2 linked regions of the Homo sapiens genome follow. The protein of the gene in region 1 interacts with the protein of each later gene in a biochemical or structural test. Each region holds a gene or a part of one and is shown in the gene's direction. Other genes may lie near its edges. The genes, in order: MKLN1 and MAEA.

The links.
Region 2: the proteins of MKLN1 (region 1) and MAEA form a complex in vitro, tested with the Homo sapiens proteins (one study listed by BioGRID).

Annotation. Positions count from the first base shown.
Region 1 is NC_000007.14:131,439,200-131,454,603, forward strand, and holds part of MKLN1 (muskelin), read left to right. Parts: intron 1-4,281; coding exon 4,282-4,503; intron 4,504-6,574; coding exon 6,575-6,704; intron 6,705-15,404. UniProt on the Homo sapiens protein: Component of the CTLH E3 ubiquitin-protein ligase complex that selectively accepts ubiquitin from UBE2H and mediates ubiquitination and subsequent proteasomal degradation of the transcription factor HBP1.
Region 2 is NC_000004.12:1,310,192-1,325,595, forward strand, and holds part of MAEA (E3 ubiquitin-protein transferase MAEA), read left to right. Parts: intron 1-1,787; coding exon 1,788-1,970; intron 1,971-5,205; coding exon 5,206-5,409; intron 5,410-12,189; coding exon 12,190-12,312; intron 12,313-15,404.

The DNA of each region.
Region 1 (15,404 bases):
AAAACATCAGCAGATAATATTGTTAGGGAACAATTTATTCTCTTGTTCCCAAATGGTTACGTATTTCTTTTACAAAAGATGCTGATGTCTTTTTTTTTTTACAGGTTGAAAAAAGAATAGCTTAGGAGTAGCACATAGAGAGTTCTTGTGTGTGGCCTTTGTTTCTCTTGACTTTTATAAAATAGGATGTTTCTTGAAAGCTGGGTGCTGTTAAATAATGCATGGTTTTCAACTGGTTAGATGGTACAGCAGAACACTGGGGGTGAAGAAACAAGGATTTCAGTACTAATTCAGCCAACAACTATCCCTGTAATAGTGAGCAAGTAATCTGTATAATCCTGCATTTGCTATTCTATTTCATACAAATAAAGCTATAAGTTAGAACTTACACTTGTAGTGTTTATGACACTCCAAAAATAGCTTGTGGTGTTCATGACAATTTAGGATTTAACACAATGTTCAAATTTGATAAAAATATGAGAAAGCTATACGATACAAACATGCTTAAAAGCTATTTGCCATTTTTAATTTTAACATATTTAAAAAATAAAATTTAAAGACATCTGGATTTCTTAAGAACATAGTGGCGGTTTAGTTCTCAAGCTTTCCTTGATGTTGCTTTGTGTGGTTTTCCAGGAATAATGGTAATCAAGCAAAAAGATTTAAACACACACACACACACACACACACACACACACACACACACACACACACACACAGTCTCTCTCTCTCAGCAAAACCAAGAGCTAGAGTAAACCTATAACTCCCAATGCCTTGTAAGTTTAGCCAGAAACAACTAAAATACTCAGAACTTTTGTTGAAGCCCACAACAGTATAATAGGGAGACCTGGGAAAGCAAAGGGAGCCTAGCAGTTGTATGTCACAGTGAGAAGTGTCAGGGACAGGGCACAAATTGCACCCAGGGCAGCCACTAGAAGAATCAGTGAATTAACATGTGTAAAGTACCCAGAAATATCCAGAGGTGATATGTGTCAGAAAGCATTATTTTGTAAAAGTGAAGGAAACACAGTGGGAATGATGGCTCCTTTTGCAATGGCCAGTAAGAAACCTGGGGAGCTCAAAGCTTGAGATCAGCCCTGTAAGCCAGATGAGAGTCATAGAATTAGAGAAGGTATGGCTTCACCGGAAGTGCCATATTTTGAAGGAGCCATTCAATTCAGTAGCAACAGAGGAAGGAGTTCTTGAGCGAGAACATCCACCTTCTATAGAAATCCTCTGTGAAGTTATCTGGTCCAGGGAAATTCAACTCAATTACATATGAAAAACTAAAAAGCAATAAATAACAAAGCTTTAGAGAGACATTCTAAAGAAAAACAATAAAAAGAAAAATAACAATAAATGAAAGTTATATCCCAGTACATTACCCCTTTCAGAAATGAAGACTTATCTACAAAGAGCGTAAAGAAGAATAGGTAATGATCATATAGCATAGGAATAAGATAAAACAAAGAGGTAAAAATGATTAACCAGGGAAGGTAGGCAGAGGAGAGCCAACATATATATATATAACTGGAGACTTTAAAGAAGAAAGCCAAAACAATGGAAAAAACAAATATTTATCAATTGAATTCAGGAACATTTTCCTGAAGAAAGATTTTACTCCGCATGTCAAATGGGCATACTATATTCAGAAAAAGTTGACCCAAATACTTAACTCTAAGACATATATTAATAACACTGACTATAAAAGATAAGAGATCATTTTATAGCAAGTAGACAAAATGATCAAGTCACCTATAAGAGAACTAAAATGAGACTGGTATCAGATTTCTCTACATCTACTTTCAGTGCCAAGAGATAATAGAGCAACATCTAGAAGACATTCAAGAAAAGACAGTATGAGCCAAGAATTTTATATCTAGCCAAACTGTCCTTCAAGTATAATCAGTTTTTGTGGAAATTACTAGAAAATGGAAAGTGAGCTAGCCAAGAAGTAGCAGGAAAAACTTCAGTTGAAGAATTGAAGATCTCAGCTCATTGATATTCTCACTGGGTCATGAGGCATTTTTGGAGGTTTGTAGAAGGGAGGGTGGTAGGTTGGACAACATTGGATACTTAGAAGCCTTTATAGCAATATCTTCAAATTTTGTGAGGAGAAGATTATTTTGAACCCAGCCAAACCCTTACCAATCTTGTATTCCTGTGATGAGTAAAATAAAGTCATTTTCAGGTTCAAAAAATAATTTTTCCCAGGAAAATAAGTGGTTATCCACTATTTTGATTTTAAAAATTAAATATCTAACTCCTGACATAATAAATGAATAGTCTTTAAACTTTTGGCTTTAAAGATTTTTTTAAGTCTTTGATGGAAAAGACATTATCACACAGAGTTTAATAAGTTTACTAGCTTTTCAGAAATTTTTTCGGAGAGTAAAAATGACAAAACAAATCAAAAGCGTGGAAATCGAATATTAAAAGGTTTCTTGGTTTAAACTGGTATGCTAGGAAGAACTACCAAGATAAAGATGTTTATACTTCAGCCCTGCAAACAAATGAGAATAAACCACATCAAAATTAAGCTTGAATATTCTCAAAAAGAAAGAAACTCTTTGTAGCCATACGAAGTAGAAAGGTAGGGGGTTGGTAACAAAGATTGGCCATTAGTATGAATCTGTGAGTTAATAAAAAATGGAAATAGACTCATTTAATGTGAGTCCCTAAAGATTTTCAGCATAGTTCCCAGATATTTGGAGTGATTGAGTCTGAAGTACTTCAGAAACGGAAATGTGACCCAGCTCCAGTGGAGCCCTCAACGGAGGCAGTGGATGGGGCCAAACTGAGTTGTTTTCAGCAGTGTGCTGATTTTAACTGTATGATCATTTTAAAAAATAGGAATACTTCCAGACATCTTTGTTTTTCAACCATGTTTACCAAGATTTCACCCTTGGGGAATAGATTTTCATCTTAATTTATGGAAGTCTTTGAGAAACCTGGGAAATGGCTAATGAGGTAGATCTTTTTAGTGGTAGATAAAAATTAGGAGATGTTAGAATCTTTTTAATAATAACTACAGTTTTTTAAAACAACATTTAAAATTATGAAAATAGCCAGGCACGGTGGCTCATGCCTGTAATCCCAGCACTTTGGGAGGCCGAGGCAGGCGGATCACCTGAGGTCGAGAGTTCAAGACCAGCCTGACCAACATGGAGTAACACCATCTCTACTAAAAATACAAAATTATCCTGGCGTGGTGGCATATGCTGGTAATCCCAGCTACCCGGGAGGCTGAGGCAGGAGAATTGCTTGAACCTGGGAGGCAGAGGTTGTGGTGAGCCAAGCTCATGCTGTTGCACTCTAGCCTGGGCAACAAGAGTGAAATTCTGTCTAGGAAAAAAAAACAAATTATGAAAATAGCCTTTTGTTTAAAAAAATACATAAATAGCAGAAGTAATCTGGTAGGAGAATTGAACATCAAATGGTTGGGTTTTATTTTAGCAAAACATAGATGTTTTGTGTACACAATTTATTCTTTATGTAAATGCCACTTACGTTCAACAGCTAATTCCCAACTTGGATTTATGTGTTATTTGAAACAGAATTTGATTCTTATTGTCTCGTGACAAATGGCTGTTTTCTCACACATTTTTATGAAAAGTTATAATCTTGAGTTGAAAGAATGGAAGAATAAAGCTTGACTTTTAAACATGAAGTGTATAGCTTAATTCAAAGAAAATTAAATAGTGCTATGTTAAAAGTAGGCAGAGTTCTTCACATTGTAGAAGTCAGTCTGGAGACTTGATTGTTGTAAATGTCCTTTTGTTTGTTTGTTTTACTGTTTTGTAACATAATCTGAAGGGTTTTATAAAAATAAATGCAGAGAGGTGAATTTAGCTTCACCACTCTTATTTGCATATCTGATCGCTTAGTAAATGGTAGTAATATTAATAGGATGCTTGCCTAGAATGAAAGAAGGGAATTTTTATAAGGAGGGTATGATCACTATTCACCCAGAATATAAGTATTCACTCTTACATATAAATCAACGCCTCATGTATCATTGGTTGATTTTGATAAAAATTATGCAATTTCAAGAAAGCAGAAAGCTCTTTATTCCAACATGTTTTTACCCTCACTGACAAAAATGACAACTTGAAAAATTATTTAGAAACTTGCATATGATAATCAGGGGTGGTATTTAGTGTCATTAGGGACAAAGTTTAGGGTTTTTTTGAGAATGTAAAACTGTACATGTTGGTTTTGTTTTAGCACATATGACAGGAACAAACTAAAACTATTCAATCTGTTGCCTTGTTCTGATAGATGTGTATGGACTCAGAAAAACATATGATCTACACTTTTGGTGGTAGAATTTTGACTTGTAATGGCAGCGTAGATGACAGCAGAGCCAGTGAACCACAATTCAGTGGCTTGTTTGCTTTCAACTGTCAATGTCAAACCTGGAAACTTCTTCGAGAGGACTCCTGTAATGCTGGGCCTGAGGACATCCAGTCTCGAATAGGACACTGCATGTTATTCCACTCAGTAAGAACATTCCGTACATTGCGTAAATGTTATTTTGTCATGTATATCTAGATAGGAAAAGAAGTGGTGAAATCTAATTCTTTAGGAAGAGATTAGTGTAGCAATGACAGAGAAAGACAAAACTTCTTTAACAGTGAACTGTTTGCTAATTATGAGACTCTTCCCATCAACCTGGTAATTCCTAAATAGTTACTACCTGGCTACCAACCTGGGCAATCTTATGACTAATTTCACTGCTTATGTAGATTTTGTAGCTATGTTCCTTTCTTATGCCTTTCCACTTACGTCTCTTAGTAATTAGAAGGACAATTTCTTACTCTGTTCTTATTTTCCCTTCTGCTATTCTCCATTAAGTACAAAGAATTTAAGATTTGATTTTATAGAATTAGAATTTAAATGTATCAGCAATGGTCAGGAGCAGTGGATCACTTGATTCCAGAAGTTTGAGACGAGCCTGGCCAACATGGCGAAACCCCATCCCCAGTAAAAATACAAAAATTAGCCTGGCGTGGTGACCTGTGCCTGTAGTCCCAGCCTCCCAAGTAGCTGGGATTACAGGCATGCACCACCACGCCCGGCTAATTTTTTGTATTTAGTAAAGACAGGGTTTCACCATGTTGGCCAGGCTGGTCTTGAACTCCTGACCTCAGGTGATCCACCCGCCTCTGCCTTCTGCGGTGTTGGGATTACAGGCATGAGCCACTGTACCTGGCCACTTTCTTGATGCTCAAATTTTTCTCTTTGGCTAGTAGGAGCACCCCCCACAACATATTTATGTATCTTTTTTTGTAAGAGAAAAATTAAATTGTGAATTCATACTGATATGTCTGATTCAAATAAAATATTTTTTATCTTAATGTCTTCTATTTTGTAACTTTATATCTTTTCTTTTTACCCCGACTGGAGCGCAGATCGTAGCTCACTACAGCCTTGAATGTCAGGGCTCAAATGATCCTCTCACCTTAGCCCCCCAAGTAGCTAAAACTACAGGTGTGTACCACCACACCTGGGTTTTGAGTAGTAGTAGTAGTAGTAGTAGTAGTAGTAGTAGTAGTAGAAGAAGTAGTAGTAGTAGTAGTAGTAGTAGTAGTAGTAGTAGTAGTAGTAGTAGTAGTAGTAGAAGTGGAAGTGGAAGTGGAAGTAGGAGACAGGGCCTTGCTGTGTTGCCCAGGCTGTCTCAAGCAATCCTCTCACCTTGGCCTGCCCAAATGCTAGGACTACAGGTGTGAGCCACCATGCCTGGCCTATTTTTGTGTCTTTTAAGGTTAAAATCCTGCTTCATAACATTAGTTGCTTTGTCTGTCTATAATAGCTTTCACAGTAAAGAAAACTAACAACAGAATCACTGAGTGCTGTTTAACGTTGCTTTCTGATTATTTTTCTGTTTAGGATTTAGACTTCTAGGGATGGGTAGTCAAAAAGTATGTATTAAAATCATTAGAAATACTATTTCTGTGTCTGAGTATATCTTTATATACAGATAGGTTTATTTGTTGGATTTTTTTTGCCCAAATTTTAGATTTTTTTTTTGAGTTAATTTTGTCTTCTAATTAAATAAAAGCATATACATTGTTCTAAAGTCAAAACCATACATCAAGGTATTATTTTTGGAGAGGTCTTCCTGCTCTGTTCCTGCCACTATAGGTAACTGTCTTTTATTAGGTTTTGGTTTATCCTTCCTTTGTTTTTCAAAAAAAGAAGCAATCTCTATTCTCGCTCTCGCTTGCGTGCTCTCTCTCTCACTTTTCCCCTCTCTCACATTCTCTTTCCCTCTCTCCCTCTCTTTTTGTCTGATGCACAGATATTCCTTCTTCTCCATTCCTACACAAAGGAAGAAGGAACCTGTATATATTATTCTGCACCTTGCTTTTCTTCTTTAACAGGATGTCCTAGAGATCCCCTTTTAGCAATATGTAGAGAGCTTCCTCTTTCCCTTTTATTCCAGCATAGTACTCCATTGGGATCTGTTATAAAATTACTTTTGTAGAGGTTTAAGTTTTTAAAGGATCATTCTGAGTTCTTCATGGAAGTGATAAGTTACTCCTTTCTTTTTTTTTTTCTTCTTTTTCAGAAAAATCGTTGCTTATATGTATTTGGTGGCCAGCGATCAAAGACCTATTTGAATGATTTCTTTAGTTATGATGTGGACTCTGATCATGTAGACATAATATCAGATGGCACCAAGAAAGACTCTGGGATGGGTAAGGGCATTGAGTGATTTCTTCTCTCATGTCTTAACTACTTTAGGTAGAAAACTGCAGTTCATTCTCTTTTCTTTCTAATCATTTTTCACCCTTTCTTTATTTCTTTAATTGAGTAATTCCAAGTAAGAGAAAGAAAATTCTACCAGCTTATTCAGTTCTATCTATTTTTAAATATGGGAATTACTATTTCCTTCAAGCAGAAAATATGTGAATTTCTAAATGAATTGTGTGTGTGCTTGTTGGGGGGCGGGGTAGGAAGAATCAATATCTTAAAAACTTTTTATTCTGTGTTTGCTAATTTTTTTCATCTTCTATTTTCACTGTAGTGATCTTTATATTAGGCACTAGCATAGTAGGGTGTGTGTCTTAAGGGGGGAACTTCATGGGATTGGTAACACCTTGTAAGTTTAAAAGCTCAGCATCTAGGAGGTTATTAGTAGTGGAATGGCTGGTTTGCTTAGATTATGCATATTGCCCTGGCATAATTATTAATAGTGCTCCATTCATTTTCAAAAGTGTCCTGTTTTGATCATTTATAGTTACCCTACATAGTAGTTGCTTTGCCTGTGATTATTGTACCTAAAAGAGTGGCTTTAATTAAGGTGCAATGGTTTAAAATGCTAATTTGAACAATAGAGTGAGAAATTAAATCAGCTGCTTTTCTTTTTAGCTGTTGCTTATAGATTGGTGTTTTTATTATTGGCTCTTTTGCCAAATGTGGATAAAAGCACTTGTTTCACAGACATTGTTTCTGGATATTTTATTGATTAATACAAGCTTCCTTTAAAACAAAAACAACAAAAATATTTTTAAATTAAAATATTTGTTCACATTTAAGAAGAAAAACTTGTTTTAAAACAAACAAACAAAAAAACAAAAGATAGGCAAGGCACAGTCGCATATGCCTGTAATTCCAGCTAGTCCAGAGACGGACATGGGAGGATTGCTTGAATCTAGGAGTTTAGGACCAGCCTGAGCAACAAAGCAAGACCCTGTCTCTACAAAAAGGAGGTTTCCAGATAAAAGTAGACTCAATAGATATGTTAAGCATTTGGAAGAAAAATCTGTTGATGAGTATAAATAGCATCTAATGTAAAAAACGAAGGATAGGGACACAACAGGAAAAGCGAAACTTTTTATAAAAAAGGAGACATTATCACAGTAAATTTCTTGGCTTTACAGTAAGCAGTATTTCCCTAATCATAATGCAGAACTACAGCCAGTTTAACCAAAAATTGGGATGAAATATAGTGGGAAGATAGTGTAAGTGTAGTAAACATCTTCGTCTATTACAACAGGAAATTAGTAGGTAATGTCTAAAATAGCAGCTTAGCATGTGATTTAGAAATATGGACCTGAATAGGTAATAACATTATTTACCCTATCTAAAATTGTCTTATTTACTCATTTATTTACTGTTGCCATAGGAGAGTGTAGAGCTATATGATTTAATATTTGACTTTCTCTGGCTTTTAAGAGTTATTCTAACTTACCATTAAAATAACTAGGAGGGTCAGGCGCAGTGGCTCATGTCTTTAATCCCAGCACTTTGGGAGGCTAAGGTGAGAGGACTGCTTGAGCCCAGGAGTTTGAGACTAGCCTGGGCAGCATAGTTAGCCCTCATCTCTATAAAATAAAAATAAAATAGCAGGAGAGAGGTAATACTCCTTCTACAATCCTAAGATGGGTCTCCCTGAAAAAGGTAGTGAAGATAGTAATTGATATGACAATATGTTGAAAATTATGGCATGCTGACTCAGTGCTAGACTACGGACACAGTGGATACAAGGCAATCACAGTCTCTCAAAGTGCTTATAATCTAGCTAGTAGGTAATGTATTCCCATGGATAATAATTACTACTCTTTATTTAGACCCTACCATATACCAGAATATCTTTAATTGGTGGTATTATTCTAATGTACAAGATGAAAACAGTTACACAACTACGTAATGACAGAGCTGGGATTTAGAAGTTTGAGTGCAAGGAAGGTGTTTCTGCCATGCTAAACTACTGCCCAAGATTAAAAGAAAAAAGTGGCGGCCACGTGAGGTGGCTTACACCTGTAATCCCAGCAGTTTGGGAGGCCAAGACAGGTGGATCACGAGGTCAGGAGATCGAGACCATCCTGGCTAACGTGGTGAAACCCCATCTATACTAAAAATACAAAAAATTAGCTGGGCGTGGTGGCGGGCGCCTGTAGTCCCAGCTACTCGGGAGGCTGAGGCAGGAGAATGGCGTGAACCCGGGAGGTGGAGCTTGCAGTGAGCCGATATCACGCCACTGCACTCCACCCTGGGCGACAGAGCGAGACTCTGTCTCAAAAAAGAAAAAAAAGTGGCAATGCGTGATAGTGACAGAGAACTAGTAAAATAAAAATTCACCATGACAAGTAGGCTTTAATGACTGTCATTCAAAACAATTTTTTAATGAGTTAAAATTATGTAGTAATGTACAGTATCGACAATTATTCTTCAATCATGGTTATGGCTAGCTTTAGAGCAGTGTGGCAATTATTCTTTTTATTTAATTTTGTTGTGGTCATAAAAGTAAAAATATGCTCATTGTAGAGAATTTGAAAAATAAGATGCAAAAAAGAAAATATGTCAAACTGTCCAGAGATAACTTGTTAAAATTTTGATATATTTCTGTCTAGTCTTTTTAAAACTTATTTATTGTATAAAAGTTGATACAAGTTTGTATTCTATTTTAAAATTTACATTAAATTGTGGGATTTTTTCCATTATTGTGGTTTTATTAATGTGAACTGGAGATGTTATTAGAAAAGACAAATGGATTCATTGTTTGATTACTGCTATAATCAATTTTTCTAAAATCAAAATCACCATTTTTTACTGTGTGTGTTCAGTGTGTAATTGGTTTACACAATTGAATTTTCCCACAATGCAAATAAATTCATTAATAATATTTGTTGACCATCTACTAGCATCTAAGTTTGTCCCTCTCCCTTCCTCCTTCCCTCCCCACTTAGTTCATTGTCTTCTGTAGGCCCAAGATTATTTTAGGCACTTGGGATTCATCTATGGACCTGGAGGATAAGATCCTTTCCCTTAGAGGACTCACATTCTAGTGGAGAGAGACCTGCAGTTGTGTTCTAAGTACTGTGAATAAAATACACTGGATGCCGTGATAATGAATAACAAGGGAAGTCTCATTTAAACAGAGTAGGTTGGGAAACCATCTTTGAGGAGGTAATCTTTAAGATTTAAGATGAAAAGTAGAGAATTAGGAAGAACCATGTGAAGAACTGAGAGAAGAACAAGTACAGAGTTCCCAAAGCAGGAAGGAACCTGGGATGTTCAGAAATAGTGGGACTGGTACGTATTGAGGATTGGAAAAGTTGGTATGAAACTAGGTTAGAGCTACGGAGATAAGAGTCAGAGTATTTAGTGCCTTGTTACAAATGCAAGGAGTTTGGATTTTTTTTCTGAATAAAATAGATTATTCAAAGGTTTAATATCAGTGTCTTGATCTAAGTTTTAACAATACCACTTCTTTGTCTAGGTGTATATTTTCCAAGTGGTTAATTTTGACAATGTTCCTGTGAGTTGCATTGTTCAAAGGCTTGTTTACTGAGGATTTTTATGGCAGGGTTGAGCATCTGGTTAGAATTACTTGGAAAAATTTCCCACCTAAAACTGTTGCAGTTATACTTGGAATTGAGGAACCTCAGTGACTCTGTTAGCACATTAGAGTGAAATGGAAATTATTCTCTTTTTTTCTGTTTTTTTTTCCCCTCATCTCTGCCTCTCTCACTTTCTTCCTTTTCCCTCCTTCCCATTCTTTTTCCCATGTCCCTTTTACTCCTCCCCCAACTTTCTCTCTCCTAGAGGATTCTAATATGCGGCTGGGATTGAGAACCACTGTTCTAGCTCTCCGGAGTCTATTTCAGTCCTTAGTTAACCTTAAGCAAGTTACCTAATGTCTCAGCTTTTGCTTCCACATTTGTAAATGACCCAAATTAGATTTTAAGGAAAATAGCGTCTCTGTCCATGGCTACCCTAGGAGTAGAGATGGGTTAACCCTCTAGTTTCGACTGGTGTTACTGTTGGGTGCCTTAATTTTCACAAGAGGATGTTAATACTGCTACCCTCAGGTTCACTAATCTAGCCAGTTAACATCAAGTCATGCCAATTTTGCCTCATCTTCTCTCTATTCCCATTGCTGCTTCACTATGAACTAGTTTGGGCTAACATCACCTATTTGGCCTCTGTCTCTAGACTTCCTCTCCCTATGTACCCCTCCCTGCAACCCATTCTCCACACTGCAAGCAGGATACAGCTATTCTGTGTTACCAGTAAAGAATAGAACCATATGCCTTAACATTTATAGAGCAGATATTTTTTGGTCACCTACTAGGTGCCAGACAATAAGCTACGCACTAGGAGTACAACTGTGAATGAGGGCCCTATCTTCATGGAGTTATGGTTGTACACAGAGAGGAAAAATAAAGTGACAGCCTTACCTTTAGATTAGTGCTAGTGAAGAAAAGAACATATTTTTAAAAATACAAACCTAGTGGGTTTTCTTCCTCACTTTAAATCTTTTAATGGTTTCTCCCTGCCCTCAGGATTAAGTCTAAACTTAACATAATTCACAGACTCTTTTATGATGTGCCCCATTTTAGTTCTCCAGTCCTAGTCTTGGTGTCTGTACTCTTCTTGCCACCAACTCTGTTTCACGACCACCGAATATTAAATCTTTATAGATAGTGTGTTTTAACTTGCCTTTGAGAGTTGCCCATGCTATTCCTCCTACCTGAATCACTTTCCTCTCCCCTCCAAAATCTAGCTAACTTGTACTGCTTACCTCTCAGATCTTAGCTTGTAGATCGTTGTCGCCCAAAATTCTCTAATGCCTTAAGCCCAGGTTAGAAATATAAAAACATGTGGCTCTAGCCATCATTGTTAACGCAATTCTAGGTATTCATCTGGCTGTAAAATCTTGACTGTGCTTTTCAAAACCTATACAAAGATCAGCTGAAATACACAGACTTGTTCATGATTTCTTAAAGAGCATTCAGTGGTTTCAGTACTCTAGATCTCCTAAAAGTCTTTTACTGAACTAAATTAGACTGTTCAGAAAACCTCACATCAGAACCATGGTATATTATATTGTCCTCCCATAGAATTATTTTACCTCACTTTTAAAAAGTACATTTTTTTCTCTCTTACTAGATTTTTATTGTAAGCAGTGAAAAGTACTTTTAAGAAGGCAGAATACTATTTAAATTCCCACATTTTTAAAATATTCTTAGAAAACACCAATTTTATCCATTATGTAGATGCTCTGTAGCTTATTAATCATTCTGTTGTTTGTTAACTGTTGTTCTAAAGATTTTTTACTACAGTTAATTACTGTAATTTGAGATGGACTTAACATATAATTACTGTGTTTATCTGTGATTCAGTAATGTGGCTTATTTGATTAAAATTATATTTACAATGTGAGTATCAAATGGGATTGTTTGAGCTCATAGAGTAAATTTGTTTGAACTATTGAGATCACCGAGATGGTATAGCTAATAGTAAAATTACTGCTGTTTATATAATTCTGTATTGTCAGATACTATAAAATCTTAAGTTGTTGCTCTTTATAATTATCTGAATGTACCATCTTAGATTTAACATCTGAAGATCTGAAGAAACTTTAATGCTTATTTTTAAACTACAGTGTAACAATTTTATGCTCTCCTCAGAAGAAAATTATAATTTAAATCAATGGATTGGCAGCTGCTTTAAGGGATTTATTAGCATTGTGTCTAATACATACATAATTACATCAAAATTCAGCATATCTAAAACTTGAGTTTATTTCTGAGAAACTTTTGGCAAGTAAGACTGTGAACACAAGGGGTTTAGCAGATTCCCCATATGTAAGCTCTGTATTTAACACTAATTGAAACTTATGTGTAGAAGATGGTCTGTCACACCACCAGAGTTTTGTAGTTTTCTATAGAAACTCAGTCTACTATAGTAAGAGTGCTTTCTCCTGTTCGTATTCATTCAAGGAAGAAGCATATATTGAACCTTCTTCATTTGCCAAATGCTAAGTCAAGTATTGGTAATACTGAGGTCTTACAACCTGATGCTTGTTCTTTAGTAGTTATGTATTTACTTGTTTTGATTTTTAAATTGTGTCCACTCTGTTTTCCCACATCTGCCATTGTTTATTCCATCCTGTTCTAACCATTATAGCAGATTGGTACCATTGAAAGAATAGCAAATTGAGAATCAGAAGACTTGGTCTCTCTTTGTCTGGGTCTGCCACTCATCCCTCTGTAATTCTAGAAAAATTATATAACTTCTCTGAACCTGATTATTCATCTGAAAATGAGGAGATTGGACCAGTTGATCATAAGACCTCATCTAGCTCCAAAATTTTGAAAATTAAATTTCATTCCCTTCTGCTGTTATCAGGCTGTGAAACTAAGATATGAGGGCTATGTGAGTTTACATCTACAGAACTTGATTTATCTATAAATAAATTTTTATGAAAACCTTAAAAGCAAAATCATACTGATTTTCATTTTGGCCCTGGGAATGTGCTTATTGTGCTTACTGACATTTTAAAAAATTAGTATGGTCATAACTCTTTATGTTTCTGATCCTTTTATACTTTTTTTTTTTTTTTTTTTTTTTTTGAGATGGAGTCCCGCCCTGTCGCCAGGCTGGAGTGCAGTGGCACAATCCCGGCTCACTGCAACCTCTGCCTCCCGGGTTCAAGCGATTCTCCTGCCTCAGCCTCCCGAATAGCTGGGATTACAGGCATGCGCCACTACGCCCAGCTAATTTTTGTACTTTTAATAGAGACGGGGTTTCATCATGTTGGCCAGGATGGTCTTGATCTCTTGACCTTGTGATCCGCCCGCCTCGGCCTCCCAAAGTGCTGGGATTACAGGCGTGAGCCACTGCACCCGGCCGATCCTTTTATACTTTTACCAATTAAATGAGTAAAGCCAAACTGGCAACACAGAGAAGACTTTGAAGCTGATGATTTGCTGTCATTAACATAGATTAGTTACTGGACTAGAAAATGGTAGCGCTTATTTTCAACATAATTAGGCTTCATTGCTGTCAGTTTAGTATGTTTTGTATTTGATGTGTCATTATTCAAACAGAGTATCTACTTTTTGCCTCTCAAAATTATTGGTAATAATAACTTTCCCTGATTTCCCCCTTCTACCCTCCCAGGGGTGTTTTTGCTAGTTACAAGCTTACAAGAGTATTTTATATTTTTAGATATGATATTTAGGTTACTTGATAGTAAATGAGAATTAAAGTTCACATGTAAAAACAAACATGCAAGAACACTAACAACAATTTTGAAAGTTAATGAAGTAGTACTGGCACTACCAGATATTTATAAAGCTACAATTTGCCAAAGTACAGACTAATGGGATGAAATAGAGCAGATAGTATAAAAATGTCCCCAAATACATATGAGAATTTAGTATATGGTAAAGTTGGCATTTCCAGTCAGAGAGAAAGAATAGATTAAACAGTATATGACATGGAGACATTGCTTAAGACTTGGCAGTATTTTAAAAAAAAGGAAAATCTGACTCCAGCCTGGGCAACGGCAAGACTCTTTCTCTTTAAATAAGTAAATAAATAAATATGAATAAATGGGAAAATCTGGATCCCTACTTGACTTTTGTACATCAAAGAAAATTCTAGGTGAACTTAAGTTTCATACTTAAGAAATAAAATTATAATTCCAATTATTTTTAATAATCTAGGATTAAGAGAAGACCCTTCTAAACATGCCACAAACCCAGAAATCATAAAGAAAAGGAATGTTTGATTTTTGCAAAATTAAAAAATATAAAAAATTGTTAAAATATCAAATAATGACAAACTAGCAATTAAGACAAAGCTTATTTCCTACAATGAACAAAAGGCTCTTATAAACCAATAAAAGTGGATAATCCTGTAGTAGAACAATGACAAATTATATGAATAGATACTTCGAAGAAAAAATAATTCATATTGCCAGTAAATTTACACATGTACAGATGCTCAGCTTTATTCATAACTTTTAAGTGTAAATTAAAAAATCACTCAGTGAATGTTGGTATGGCCATGAGGAAGCAGGTGTCTTACATTCTGGTTGAAATGTATTTGGTACAGCCTTTTTTTTTTTTTTTAACAGTACTTTATCATTATCTGTTAAAATACAAAAAATATATTTTTTTGACTAAGCATTTTACTCCACGAACTTTTCCTACTCATATACTTTTATAGATCCACAAAAAATAAGCTATACAGAGATATTTATTGTAGTATTGTATGCAAGGAGAAAAAATCTGAAGACGGATTGACCATCAACTTATTTGATTTTTATTTATTTGATTGTCCACCAGTAAATAAATTGGTTGATCCATTCAAAGAGTTCAGTTTTTTATAGCTTAATACAGCTGAGATAAATCAGTAAATATTGTTGAGTGTCAAAAGCTAGTTGCAAATTTACAAAAAATAAATGATGAGTGGTAGAAAGATTCAAGTAAAATAATAGAAGTTAGTTCTGAACTGGAGTTGTTGCTAGTGCTTAATAGGGCCCCATCCAACATTTAAAATGTCCCAACTTTCAAAGAGAAGGATGTGGCAGACACTGTTGTTTGCTTTCCCAAAAGTCATTGGCCCTTTCTTCTGTTAACCAAACCATAATTTTGTTT
Region 2 (15,404 bases), on another chromosome or scaffold:
GGAGAGTCCTGCAGGCCGGTGTCGGGCTGTGGTGTCAGGGCCTCGGGGGGGCCTTCCCCAGTGGGTCTCGTTGAGCTCGCTTGCACTGGTCAGGTATTTATGGAGAGCTGAAGTGCTGTCTGCTGTGACTTCCCATCCACTAGATGTAGAGCAGACGAAAAGAATCTTTCCCGTCTTTCCTAAGCAGTGCCGAATCCTTGGGAGAAATCTTGAAGGCAGGCAGTGTGGATGATGGGACCCCAGGCTGCGTGGCACCAGCAAGCTTGGTTCCAGATGCCACACACGGTGCCTGGCTTCGAGTCCGTCTCCTGTTGTCACTGCTTTGTGAGTTGGTTAAGCGTGTTGTGTCTTGATAGCTTCCCTGCCCTCCTTCTCAACATCCTGACTCATTTGCTCACCAGCAAGGGTGAGTCCTGCTCGGTAGCAGACGGTGATGCTGGCTGCCATTTGCAAAGCCTCCTGTGTGGCTGTCTGGTGTGGACGAGAGCGTGTGCACCCTGTCACCCGCGGTGGGTCCACGTCGGCGCTGGGGGATGTCTGAGTGGAGGGCAGCTGGGGCCAGGCCGAGTGGGGAGTGGCAGCCGGGGGAACGGGCTCAGGGCCGGCCTTGCCACCCGCCTCCTGCCCCTGCTTTCGGGGGGAAAGTGAGTCTAGGGAAGAGCCCTGCTGTGTGGCTCCTTCCTCGGCTGAGGCCAGTCCTGTCTCTGTTGCCCTGGCTGTCCCTACTTCTGGGAAGCCCAAGCGCTGAGCTGCGTCCAGGTCTCCCTCACTGCAGCCCTGCCTTCCTCACGTGGCCTCACGGCTAAGCACAGTGGCTGACACGAGGTCGAGGCGTGCCCAGGGCCGGGGGAGCAGGCGGTACCCGAGAGTCTGTCCTCCCATGGTTGGGCACGGCTGGAGAGGAGGCGAGGTGGAGCGCTTGTTCTGGCACAGCTGCGACGGCAGAGTTGGGCCCACTGCTCTTGGGCGGCAGCACGGCCGTGTTGCTGATGCGCTGTGTGGTGAGCTGCCGGCCACCAGTGCAGCCAGGACCGCAGGTGGTGTTTCCTGCGGGAGCCCGGCCACGGAGGCCGGGGAGCGCTGGGGCGTGATTCTGTCGTGCCGCTTTCAAACCGTAGAGCACAGGAAACGGGCGGAGAAGAACTCAGCAGCGCTTCTCTCAGAGGGACAGAAAACTAACAACGACTTTAAGATTCTCCTTGATTGGCTTATTTCCACAGGGAATGGATGGTTCTTACGACTGGGGAAGGCAAACGCTGTCACACAGGAGAGGTGTGGGTCGTGCACTTGTGGCTTCCCGTGCGTGTGTGAGGCTTGCTGTGCCCAACCCCAGCCCGTGTGGAGCCCACGCCCCATGCACCCTTGTCCCTGCCCGGCCTGGCCTCGTGTGGTGGCGCCTGCAGCCGCAGCAGCCTGGCTGATCACCGGCCAGGCCTGTGTTTTACCGTCTGATAGCCTCACACCCCGGTCACTCCTCTCCTGTTTGGAAATTTCTTTAACTGTTCGTTATTCTGGATGAACTTTGGGATTATTTTGTCAACATACACGTACAATGTTTTTGGCAAAAATTGGGGTTGCTTCTCATCCAGGGATGTGGAGTGGCTCTCCGTTCAGCAGGGCTTTTGTGGGTCTTGGTTGAGGTTTAGAGTAGATACTTTTGAGACCATGAACCTTCTGAGACTTCTGCCTCTACAAGTGCCATGAGGAGACCTGGTGTGTCCTGGGTGTGGGGCTGGTGGGGCTCACACCAGGGGAGCAGATCCCTCACCATCCTCCTTCCTCTCCAGGTGCCCTACGAGACGCTGAACAAACGCTTTCGCGCCGCTCAGAAGAACATTGACCGGGAGACCAGCCACGTCACCATGGTGGTGGCCGAGCTGGAGAAGACGTTGAGCGGCTGCCCCGCCGTGGACTCCGTGGTCAGCCTGCTGGACGGCGTGGTGGAGAAGCTCAGCGTCCTCAAGAGGAAGGTTGGTCCCGCCTGGCGGTCCCTCTTCAGTCTGGGGCATGGACACCCCTTTTGTCTCGAAAATGAGTCCTAAGACAGGCAAGCTGCAATGATGGGAACGCGGGAGGTGCGGTTGGGGGCCCCCTTCCCTGCTGTCTGCCTTCTGGGGCCACTGTCGGCTGAGCAGGCCAGCTTCCTGTTCCTGTAGGGACCGTGTTGTCTTGCTCCAGGAGTGTCCAGAGTCCAGGCCACAGGGAGACCAGGATGTATAGCAGGTTGATTGATTTTTTTTTTTTTTTTTTTTTTTTGAGACAGAGTCCCACTGTGTCATTCAGGCTGGAGTTCAGTGGTGCGATCTCAGCTCACTGCAGCCTCCACCTCCGGGGTTCAGGCGATTCTCCTGCCTCAGCCTCACGAGTAGCTGGGACTACAGGCGCCCACCACCACGCCCGTCTAATTTTTGTATTGTTAGTAGAGACAGGGTTTCACCATGTTAGCCAGGCTGGTCTCGAACTCCTGACCTCAGGTGATTCACCTGCCTTGGCCTCCCAAAGCTGAAATTACAGGTGTAAGCCACTGCACGCGGCCTGATCGATTATTTTTAGATGGAATTTCACCTCCAAGGAGCATGTGGAGTTCCTTGTCACTGGGATTGGTGGACAGGGGCCTTGGGACTAATCTGGCCCACTGAAGACACCCAGAAAGTGGGATGAGATATCTTGAAACGTCGCACTGAAAATACCCAATAAACCATGAAACCGAAAGGAATCGCCAGGCCAGAACCGGAGGGCAGGGGTCAGAGGTGAGCAGCAAGAGACTGCTGTTGTCCCCTGGAGTGTTGGCCAGGCCAGATGGAGGTGAGGACCGATGACCCAAGCCTTGGAAAGTGGGGCCCAGTGGAGAGAAGGTGGGACCCCACGGTACTACAGCTCAGCGTGGGGTGTACCAGAAGTGGACTGGCGTTGACACAGCATTGCAGCCTACGTTCAGAGGACTGGGATGATTGGAGACCCTCAGCCTTCACTCCGGTGAGGTGGTCCCGGCTGGTGGTGCCTTCCAGCTCCGGGCAGAGTCAATTCAGATTCTTTCTTGGGGAGGATACCTTCAATATGGGCATAAGATGATTCTTAGATTCTCAGTTTTCAAGTACAACGTCCAGCACAGAGACAGCCTGGGCAACAGTGAGACCCTGTCTCAAGACACCACGATGGACTGGAGACCCAGCAGGCAGTAGACAGAGGGCTGCACGGACTGCAGGTGCAGGGGCTGCCAGGTGCCACACCTTACTGTGCTTAAAGAACAGAAGCAGGCTGGGCGCGGTGGCTCACACCTGGAAAGCACTGTGGAAAGCTGAGGCAGCAGAATCACTTGAGCGCAGGAGTTTGAGACCAGCCTGGGCAGCACAGGGAGACCCCATCTCCACAAAACATTAAAAATAGCCAAGCGTACTGGTGCCCTCCTGTAGCCCCAGCAGATACTCAGGAGGCTGAGGCAGAAGGATTGCTTGAGCCCAGGAGGTCAAGGCTGCAGTGAGCCACGATCATGCCACTGCACTCTAGCTGGGCGACAGCGAGACCCTATCTCAAAAAAAAGTTTGAAAGTCTCTGCAGGGAACAGACAGTATAAAAAGTGATTTAAGGCTGGACACTGTGGCTCACTTTGGAAGGGCGAGGCAGGTAGATTGCTTGAGCCCAGGAGTTTGAGATCAGCCTGGGCAACATGGCAAAACCCCATCTCTACAAAAAATAGCCAGGCGTGGTGACACACACCTGTAGTCTCAGCTAATTGGGAGGCTGAGGCAGGAGAATCGCTTGAGCCCAGGAGGTCGAGGTTGTAGTGAGCAGAGATTGTGTCACTGTACTCCAGACTGGGCAACAGAGTGAGACACTGTCTTAAAAAAGTGATTGGGCAGGCACAGTGGCTCACGCCTGCAATCCCAGCACTTTGGGAGGCCAAGGCAGGCGGATCACCTGAGGTCAGGAATTCAAGACCAGCCTGGCCAACATGGCGAAACCCCGTCTCTATTAAAAATACAAAAAAATTAGCCGGGCATGGTGTACGCCTGTGGTCCCAGCTACTCGGGAGGCTGAGGCAGGAGAATCACTTGAACCCAGGAGCTGGAGGTTGCAGTGAGCTGAGATCGCACCACTGCACTTCAGCCTGCACAGAGACTCTGTCTCCAAAAAAAAAAAAAAATTCAGAATTTAAAAGGGACTAAAATTTCAAGAAATGGGAAATATAATAACCAAAAATGAAAAACTCAACATTTGCCTATAACAGTTTAACAGTTAACAGACAAAGCTAAAGACAGAATTAGTGAACTGGAGGGTGATCGAGAATGGAGCACAGAGACTGAAAAATCAAAGTGGCTGCGAGAGTAAAGCATGGAATAGAGCAGAAACCTGTGGCATGTTTCACCAGAGCCCACCAGTGGGTGGGGACAGAGATGGTGCGGGGAGAGTGACCAAGGTTTCAGAACTGATGAGTACCACCAGGTCAGAATCCGACACAGAGTAAGTGAAAATAAACCGACATGGGATTTTCCCGTGGTGGAACTGAAGAAAACAGAGACAAAGAAATATTTGAAAAGCTCCTGAGGGCAAAAGATGACTTCCAAAGGGGCAACAGACAGCCGGACAGCTGATTTCTGCACAGCAGTTGGAAGCCAAAATTGGTAGAATGTGCTGAAAGAAGCCAGCCCGGATCCTGGATCTGTCCAGTAGTCAGTCGCCGTGTGTGCTGTCAAATTTTTAGCGAAGAATTCAGTTCCTCAGTTGCACCACTGCCCTTAAGTGTGTGGCAGCCACGTGGGCTGGTGGCAGCTGTGTTGGGCAGCACAGGCCTGGAACGTTTCTATCTAGCCCGATTCATTTTTAACAAAATTGACTTTAAGAAAAAAAGTATTGCAAAAGATTTTTTTAAAGTCACCTTATAATGATAAACAGTTTAACCAGAAAGGCATAGCAAATTTGAAATTGTATGCATCTGGCAACATGGCTTCAGGGTATATTAATATAAAGCCAGAAATAGCAGAGAGAAGCTGCAGATCCAGGGTGGTGGATTTTCACTGCCTCCGTCTGCAGCTCTTGGGCCAGGCACACCTGCCTAGCGGACTCGGTAGAGCACGGTTTTTTTTCTGTCCCGTAATCCCTGCTTTTCTCCTTGTGAGTGTTGTGGATTGGGGCAGCCTGGCCTCCCTTGGTGCAGGGCTGCGGGGCATCCCTGTCCTGAACGTGCCTCTGTTGTGTGTGGCTCAGGCGGTGGAATCCATCCAGGCCGAGGACGAGAGCGCCAAGCTGTGCAAGCGCCGGATCGAGCACCTCAAAGAGCATAGCAGCGACCAGCCCGCGGCGGCCAGCGTGTGGAAGAGGAAGCGCATGGATCGCATGATGGTGGAGCACCTGCTGCGTTGCGGCTACTACAACACGGCTGTCAAGCTGGCGCGCCAGAGCGGCATCGAGGTGGGTGCCCGCCAGACGCAGGCACAGCGCCCCAGCTGGCCCCAGGCCTATGGCCAGCCGCCCTGTGGCATGTCCCCCGGCATGCCTGTGTCCCTACATGCTTGTGTTCCCCTCCCCCCACCCCCGTATGCTTGTGTTCCCCTCCCCCCACCCCCGTGTGCGTGTGTCCCCCCTCCAGTGTGTGTGTGTGTCCCCCTCCCCGTGTGCGTGTCCCCCTCCCCCCATGTGCATGTCCCCACCCCTGTGTGCGTGTGTCCCCTTCCCGTGTGTGTGCCCCCCCCCCCCCAATGTGCGTGTTTCTCCCCCACCCCGTGTGTGTGTCTGCGCTGTGGTGAGGGCCTCCTCCCCAGCTGAGAGGCCCTGACCCTTTGTGGAAACGCACCTGGGACTTAGCCTTCTGAAGGCAGGAAGTCAGTGTCTAAGCGGCTCTCCAGGTTCTTCTCATTTCCCTGTGGTGTCTGCACACATCCTGCTTAGGATTTTCCCGCCCGATACCTGTACCCCGGGTTTTGCGCTGACACATGCTCCATTGCTTCCTCGTGAGAGCTTTGCCTTTATCTCAGGCGGGGTGCGTTTTCCGTGTTTTCTGTGGCACCCTGTAGAAACACGTGGCACCCTTGCCCTCTGTGGCTACAGCTGAGCAGACGCTGGGCGGTGCTGCCCTCTGGCACCTTTGGGCCAGGTTAGCTGGGGCGGCCTCTCTGCCATCGGGCAGTTGTCCACTGCTGTGGGGGCCCATGGCAGTTGGAGCCTCCCAGACCAGCACTTGGGCCCGTCGCCCTTGCCCCTGTCCAGATCCTGCTGTGGGAGCACAGCCTCACCTGACTCGGGTTAAGGTGGCGTCCGTGTTCCATTTGACTGAGATGACAACACTTGAGAACCTCTCAGGCAGGACTTGTGCGAGAGGATTGTGCCCCATGGCCCTGTCCCGGGCCCAGCCTCCCCATGCCCAGCCATGCGCCTGGCCCCACAGGCCTCCCTCCCATGCTGCTCCCTGCCACGGCTCCTCAGCCCACCTCCTCCCTGCTTCTGTCTAACCAGGGGTCTTCTCTCTTTCCACGGCTTAAATCCCACCCACATGTGTGTGGCTCCCACCTGGGGCATCATGGGCCTCAGCCCTGGCTGAATTCAACCCCAGCACAAGGCTCCCTTCCCAGCCTTGGAGGCGGCCTCACATTGTGCAGTCCAAGGCCTCGGGTGCCCATGGGGCCACACTCACGCCCCCATGCAGCCATCTGCACGCCCTGCTGGCTTGCAGCCTCCCCCACACTCCTGTCACGCTCCTGCCCAGCTCCCCAGCCTTGCGGCACTCCAGACTCACCCCCAGGCCCACCCGGCCCCACACTCCAGACTCACCTGCAGGCCCACCACGGCCCCACACTCTAGACTCACCCCCAGGCCCACCCCGGCCCCCACACTCCAGACTCACCTGCAGGCCCACCCGGTCCCACACTCCAGACTCACCCCCAGGCCCACCCCGGCCCCCACACTCCACACTCACCTGCAGGCCCACCCGGTCCCACACTCCAGACTCACCCGCAGGCCCACCCCAGCCCCCACACTCCAGACTCACCTGCAGGCCCACCCCAGCCCCCACACTCCAGACTCACCCGCAGGCTCACCCCAGCCCCCACACTCCAGACTCACCCGCAGGCCCACCCCAGCCCCCACACTCCAGACTCACCTGCAGGCCCACCCGGCCCCACACTCCAGACTCACCCGCAGGCCCCACACTCTGGACTCATCTGCAGGCCCCACACTCCGGACTCATCTGCAGGCCCCACACTCCGGACTCACCCGCAGACCCACCTGGCCCCACCCTCTTGCTGGCTCTTGTCCTCGGCATTTGTCCCGCACCTCGTTCACCTTCTCTCAGATGCTGCCCTGGGTGGAGCGGCACCCTCCCACCCATGCCTTCTCCCCACTGCTGCACAGCCTCCCTGCTTGTGTGTGTGTGTGGTGTCCGTCCTGCCCTCCAGGAGGGGAGTGGCGAGCAGCTGCCCAGTGGGCAGGGTGAGCGAGTGAGTCCTCGTGTCCTGGAGGCCCTCATCTGCCCAGACCTGCACAGCACTGTTGCTCTCGGCACCGCTGGGGTATGGCGTCTCGGTTCACAAGCGTGAATGTGATGTGTCACAGCTGTGCCATGAGTTGATCTGCCAGATGGCAAAGTGCACTGATCCTCTGCGGTGACCGGGGCTGGTGCCCCTGGGTGCCCTGCAGTCTTGTTGAGTTTCCGAAGTCTCCAGGTCATGACTCGCAGCCACTCCAGTGTGCACCCAACATTCTCATCGCTGGACGGGGTCGTCTGTGATGCCTCTGCCGTGCTGCCCACTGGGCTGCTGTGGCCCCCATCTGGTGCCATTTTTCCTCCACCTGGGTGTCAGGGAAGGGCATTCTCACCTGCACCTGCCCAGGCTCATGTGACGGACAGTGGGCCAGCACATGTCCGCTCCGGTGCCCTGTCCCACATGCCTTTCCCACCCACCCGCCTCCCTGGCCCCGTGTGCCCGGCTTCCCCCAATGCACAGGCCCTCGCTCCGTGCTGCCCACATGTCCTGGCTGCCTGGGGCGGCCCCCCGTGTGTTCATAGATGACCTAGCCATCCTCTCCTAAACGCCCAGCACACTGTCCTTGGGACCCATGGGGTGTGACCAAGCAACCTGGCGGTGGCTGCTGAAGCATGAGCTGTGGGTGCCCCTGGCCCCAGGGAATGTGCGCTGTGTTGGGGGAGAGAGACGTGAAGTGAAAGAAGGGGGTCCTGTGGTGGGCACAGGCCACGCGTTCCACAGAAGTGCGTAGAGCAGGGTGGATATGGGAGTGCTGATGATTCTAAGGCCAGTTGGAGTAGGCCTCAGCAGGGTGAGACGGGCTACACTCAAGGTGTTGGGGTGCCCTGAGCATGTCTGTCCAAAAGAGGGCCTGGAGCTGCTGTGTGGAAGAAGGCGGGCGTGTGGAGCCCATGAGGACTGGGTTGCGGGGGAGGGGTTCTTTCTGCTGAGATGCTCCGGAGGGCGTTGAGCTGAGGAATCGCTTTTGACCACAGGTGACCATGGCACTAGGAAGCCCTGGGGAAGGTGCTGCTGTGGCCGAGGGGGAGCTGCCAGGTTGTGGAAATGTAAACCCCGGCTGCGCTGGTCAGACCTGGACTTCCTGTAGGGGGCGCCATGGAATTCCCACGTGGGACCCCAGTTTCCTACCTGTGCACCAAAATTCCTGTGCACCAAAATTGGAGACGTGACAAACTTAGGAAAATAACCTCATGCTCTGGATTGGAGCAAGGTCCCAGACAATACAGGACAGGAAGCTGCTGCCAAGGGAAGGCCACCCAGGAACAGGACAGGAAGCTGCTGCCCAGGGAAGGCCACACAGGAACAGGACAGGAAGCCTGCTGCCGAGGGAAGGCTGCCCAGGAGGGGCAGAACAGAGTCCTCAGTGTGGCTGGTGCTGTGCGCCTGCCTGTGCTGCCTTAGGCTGGACGCAGGGCTCTCAACCCGTAATCCTAGCACTCTGGGAGGCTGAGGCGAGCGGATCTGTTGAGCCCAGGAGTTTGAGACCAGCCTGGGCAGCAAAGTGAGAACCCTTCTCTACAAATTTTTTTTCAAATTAGCTGGGAGTGTTGGTGGGTGCCTGGGGTCCCAGCTACTCTGGAGGCTGCAGTGGGAGGATCACTTGAGCCCAGGAGGTGGAGGCTGCAGTGAGCCAAGATTGCACCACTGCACTCCAGCCTGGGCAACAGGACAACACCCTGTCTCAAAACAAACAAAAGTCAGCATGAGCATTTCGTGTGAGACAGAAAACCAGTTCACTTAGATGGTTTCTAGTTTCAGTTGACGTACGAGCCTGCTGCCAGCTGGCCTCACATCTTTCATGTGACTCTCACAACCGGAGACCCGGACATTGGAGAAACCCTCAGTAAGAGAGATCCAACTGGGTTCAGACCCCGAGGCTGTGTTGACGGGACATGAGGCAGGATATAGACCAGGAGCCACCTCCTGAAATTTAGAGCAAAACTACAAAACAAGGCCTTTGGGAGACCAGGGTGGGAGCATCACTTGAGCCCAGGAATTTGAGGCAACAGTGAGCCATGATCTCACCACTGTATTCCATCCAGTCTGGACAAGAGAGCGAGACCCTGTCTCAAAAAAAAAAAAATGGTTTTTCAAGTTGCAAAACAAAGTAAGACTTTGTGGGAGACCCAACATTCGCCTGCCCTGAAGGGGCTTCAGAAAAGAAATCATCAAAGCAAACATGCAAGAAAACACTATGAAGGGGCTCCAGAAAAGAATCATCAAAGCAAACATGCAAGAAAACGCTATGAAGGGGCTTCAGAAAAGAATCATCAAAGCAAACATTCAAGAAAACGCTATGAAGGGGCTTCAGAAAAGAATCATCAAAGCAAACATGCAAGAAAACGCTATGAAGGGGCTCCAGAAAAGAAATCATCAAAGCAAACATGCAAGGAAACGCTATGAAGGGGCTTCAGAAAAGAAATCATCAAAGCAAACATGCAAGAAAACGCTATGAAGGGGCTTCAGAAAAGAATCATCAAAGCAAACATGCAAGAAAACACTATGAAGGGGCTTCAGAAATCATCAGAACAAACGTGCAAGAAAACACTATGAAGGGGCTTCAGAAAAGAAATCAAAGCAAACGTGCAAGAAAACTCTATGACGGGGCTTCAGAAAAGAAATCAAAGCAAACGTGCAAGAAAATGCTATGAAGGGGCTTCAGAAAAGAAATCATCAAAGCAAACATGCAAGAAAATGCTATGAAGGGGCTTCAGAAAAGAATCATCAACATGCAGGAAAACGCTGTGAAGGGGCTTTAGAAAGAAATTATCAAAGCAAATATGCAAGAAAACGCTATGAAGGGGCTTCAGAAAAGAAATCATCAAAGCAAACATGCAAGAAAACGCTATGAAGGGGCTTCAGAAAAGAAATCATCAAAGCAAACCTGCAAGAAAATGCTATGAAGGGGCTTCAGAAAAGAAATCAAAGCAAACGTGCAAGAAAACGCTATGGAGGGGCATCAGAAAAGAAATAATCAAAGCAAACGTGCAAGAAGACACTATGAAGGGGTTTCAGAAAAGAAATCATCAACATGAACATGCAAGAAGACGCTATGAAGGGGCTTCAGAAAAGAAATCATCAAAGCGAACATGCAAGAAAACGCTATGAAGGGGCTTCAGAAAAGAAATCATCAAAGCAAACATGCAAGAGGCCGGGCACGGTGGCTCACGCCTGTAATCCCAGCACTCTGGGAGGCCAAGGTGGGCAGATCACGAGTTCAGGAGATCGAGACCATCCTGGCTAACACGGTGAAACCCTGTCTCTACTAAAAATACAAAAATTTAGCCGGGCGTGGTGGCAGGCGCCTGTAGTCCCAGCTACCCGGGAGGCCAAGGCAGGAGAATGGTGTGAACCCAGGAGGCGGAGCTTGCAGTGAGTGGAGATTGCGCCACTGCACTCCAGCCTGGGCGGCAGAGCGAGACTCCGTCTCAAAAAAACAAACAAAAGCACACATGCAAGAAAATGCTTTGAAGGGGCTTCAGAAAAGAATAATCAACATGCAAGAAAACGCTATGAAGGGGCTTCAGAAAAGAAATCATCAAAGCAAATGTGCAAGAAAACGCTATGAAGGGGCTTCAGAAAAGAAATCATCAAAGCAAACGTGCAAGAAAACGCTATGAAGGGGCTTTAAAAAAGATATCATCAAAGCAAACATGCAAGAAAACGCTATGAAGGGGTTTCAGAAACGAGAAACCGTTAAAGAAAAGATGCAAGGAAACAACACTGTGAGGGGTTTCAGAAAAGAGAAATCATCAAAGCAAACATGCAAGAAAATGCTATGAAGGGGTTTCAGAAACAAGAAATCATGAAAGAAAAGGTGCAAGAAAACAACGTTATGAGGGGTTTCAGAAAAGAGTAATCATCAAAGAAAACAGCGCATCTGTGAGGCCGGTGGTCCAGACGTGGGGCTGTGGGACCCAAGTGGTGAACTGTGGCCTCATCCTGGGCCGTTGGGTCCTGGGCTATGTGCAGGCGGAGGTGCCGTCCTTGGTCCCACTGGGGAAGGTCGGGAGTCATTGCTGCTGAGGACCACCTGAGCGCTTGCCCCAAGCCTTGCCGTGCCTGGTGGAGTCCCGTACCAGCTGCTGTCCTGCCCCTGCCAGAGACCATGGGTTCCACTGCTAGGCACTGAGCACCCACCCCCTGTGCCCGGCCACTAGCGGAGACTTGATGCTAAGCCTGGGTTACTCTGTTTTTTTTGTTGTTTTTTTTTTTTTTCTTTGCTTTCATATAAATCATTGGTTGTAACTACCGCGATATTAGCCATAATGTGTTTATGTATTATTTAGCATGTTATTATTTGCTTACTGTTGATTTTGAAATGAGGGGGCTGCCCAGGGAGGGCCTGTAGATGTGCTGGGGGGCTGTGGGGAGTGGAGACAGGGCCGCCTGGCATGTGGCCTGGCCCTGCCTGCATGTGTGTCTCAGCAGCTCCTCTCCATGGACAGGTGGGGCCAGCCTGGCTCCCTTGCCCGGCTATGGCTGCTGTCTACGTGAGCGTCCGACCTTTTGGTCCTTGGGGGCTGTTCTGTTCCTAGGATCTCAGAGCGGCCCTGAGTAGTCCACGAGTGCAGACCCACAGTGTGGACTGGAGATGCATCTCGAGTGGTGGCCGGTGCTGGGCCTGCCTCATGGAGGCTGGGGTGTGGGAGGGTGGCATGGGGGCCTTGAGCCAGCACATTCTGATCAGGTGCTGCTTCCTTCCTCTAAGGACCTAGTGAATATTGAGATGTTCCTGACGGCCAAAGAGGTGGAGGAGTCCCTGGAGAGGCGTGAGACGGCCACCTGCCTGGCCTGGTGCCATGACAACAAGTCCCGGCTCCGGAAGATGAAGGTGCACGGACTCCCAGGTTGGGGTGGGAGTGGGTCGGGGCCGAGGCTGCGCCACCTGCCCTGGAGCCAGCACCCCCTTGCCTGGTGGTTCACAGTAGTTTGGTTTTGGTTTGTAAGGTGGGGGTTGGGTTTGGGAGTTTTTTTGGTGGCTGTGTTACACTTTTAGGCTAAAATCTGGAAAAGTGCACCTCATTTGGCATTACAGTTTGTGTACAGCTGGCATGAGGCTCAGAAGGAGTGGGTTACAGGAGGCTGACCATGTGCACACAGAGTGTTGGGGCTGCTGGGCTTAGAGCCTGGAGACAGGTCAGTCCTGCTCCATGGGGGTACTCCATGGGCTCCCTGTGCTCAGTCATAGACACAGAAAAGCTGGTTGGGAAGTCATTCTCCATCTGCGAGGCTGCAGAGCTCTGGGCTGTGATATTGTTAATGAATACCCACTTTTTTTTTTTTTTTTTTTTTTTTTTTTTTGAGACGGAGTCTCGCTTTGTCGCCAGGGTGGAGTGCAGTGGCACGATCTTGGCTCACTTGCCTCCGGTGTTCAAGCGATTCTCTTGCCTTGGCCTCCTGAGTAGCTGGGATTATAGGCATGCGCCACCATGCCCGGCTAATTTTTGTATTTTTAGTAGACATGGGATTTCACCACGTTGGCCAGGATGGTCTTGATCTCCTGACCTTGTGATCCACCTGCCTCAACCTCCCAAAGTGCTGGGATTACAGGCGTGAGCCACCGTGCCCGGCCGAGTACCGACTTTTGTAGAGACCAAAAGAAGCTTAAGAAATGGACTCCTAAAGGACAAAATTTAAACCTGCTTATTAAAAGGCATTGTCACCCTAGGGGCTTGCAGAAATGTTTTAACTTATGTTAACACTTCTGCCTCCATTAGCAAAACTTTTCTGTCTTCTAAACTGAGCGCTGCTTTAACCTCACCCTGGCTGAGTTTGGCAGGGTGCACGCAGTTACCAGCCAGGAGTGACACACTGCCACTCAGGGCCGCCAAAACAAGCACGAAGCAAAGACGGGACGAAAAAGTAGAGCGGCTAGTAGCTCCCCTAAAGAGAGTTTGGACCTTGGTATGGAAACCCTAAAAGGAAAGCCAGAATTGGTATGTAACCTGCGGCCCCACTACACAGTGCCAGCCCCACACTCCCTCCCAGAGAGCCGGCACACACCTCACAGTGGGAACTCTGCCAGGGCTGTTTCCTGTGGATGTCAGAGGGAAGATAGGTTCTTGGTGCTGCCAGGATATTCCTGCAAGCCCTAATTACCTGCCGGACAGTGTTGCTGGAGGGTGTTGGAGGCTTGCCACGAGCACACGACCTGTCTGAAGCTGCTGTGGGGACAGGCAGGGCCAGGACTCGGGGCCCTGAATGCATGCCTGGGGGACGAGTGTGCCTGGTGTTGGATGAAGTTGAGATTGGATGCCTGGTGGATGAGCGTGCCTGGTGTTGGATAAGTTGAGATTGGGTGAGCATGCCTTGTGTTGGATGAGTTGAGATTGGATGAGCGTGCTTGGTGTTGGATGAAGTTGAGATTGGATGCCTGGTGGATCAGTGTGTCTGGTGTTGGATGGAGTTGAGATTGGATGCCTGGTGGATGAGTGTGCCTGGTATTGGATGAAGTTGAGATTGGATGCCTGGTGGATGAGTATGTCTGGTGTTGGATGAAGTTGAGATTGGATGCCTGGTCAATGAGTGTGCCTGGCGTTGGATGAGTTGAGATTGGATGCCTGGTGGATGAGCGTGTCTGGTGTTGGATGAGTTGAGATTGGATGCCTGGTGGATGAGTGTGTCTGGTGTTGGATGAAGTTGAGATTGGTTTGGATGAAGTTGAGATTGGATGCCTGGTGGACGAGTGTGTCTGGTGTTGGATGAAGTTGAGGTTGGATGCCTGGTGGATGAGTGTGTCTGGTGTTGGATGAAGTTGAGATTGGTGTTGGATGAAGTTGAGATTGGATGCCTGGTGGATGACCGTGCCTGGTGTTGGATAAAGTTGAGATTGGATGCTTGGTGGATGAGCGTGCCTGGTGTTGGATGAGTTGAGATTGGATGAGCGTGCCTGGTGTTGGATGAGTTGAGGTTGGATGAGTGTGCCTGGTGTTGGATGAGTTGAGATTGGATGAGCGTGCCTGGTGTTGGATGAGTTGAGATTGGATGCCTGGTGGATGAGTGTGTCTGGTGTTGGATGAAGTTGAGATTGGATGCCTGGTGGATGAGTGTGTCTGGTGTTGGATGAAGTTGAGATTGGATGCCTGGTGGATGAGTGTGTCTGGTGTTGGATAAAGTTGAGATTGGTGTTGGATGATTTGAGATTGGATGCCTGGTGGATGAGCGTGCCTGGTGTTGGATGAGTTGAGATTGGATGAGCGTGCCTGGTGTTGGATGAGTTGAGATTGGATGAGCGTGCCTGGTGTTGGATGAGTTGAGATTGGATGAGCGTGCCTGGTGTTGGATGAAGTCGAGACTGGACGGGGCCTGAATCCATATTTAGATGCTGTCCAGAAATGCGCCCTGAAGACTCCAAATGACACGAAAACATGCCCGGTACGAGATGCGGCCGAGCCAGTTGGGGTACACGGCTGTCTGTGCAGTCTGCTCACATGTGCACGCACGCCAGGGGGTGTGTGGGGAGGCAAGGAGGAGCCAGACTGTGCTCTAACGGGTCCCTGGGACCAGCTGTGAGAACCTAGATGGGAAAAGAAACTTGAGACCCAAGTTTGACCTGGCTGAGAGATGGATTTCACAGGCATGGGTGGGTGAGTGGCCCTGAAGGCCCCTGAAGCAGTGATTTGTTTGCTGCACGTCTGTGCGAAAGCCACACGGAGCCATCAGTGTGGGCGCCTGTCGCAGGGCGGGCACAGCCTTGTTGGCGCTCCACGCCGTATGGGACAGTGTAGACTCGGTGTTTTAGATTTGGGTCTGAATACCTAAGTTTCACGACATAGACACACTTACATATTAGTGGACCAATTGAAAGTAACCTACTAGAGCAAAAGGTGTTATTGAAAAGCAGGTTTGAGGTGTCTATTGTGTGAAGCGGTAACCTAGAGTGGGCCCAGAGTCCTGCTCTTCTAGAGCACCCCCTCGGCAGCT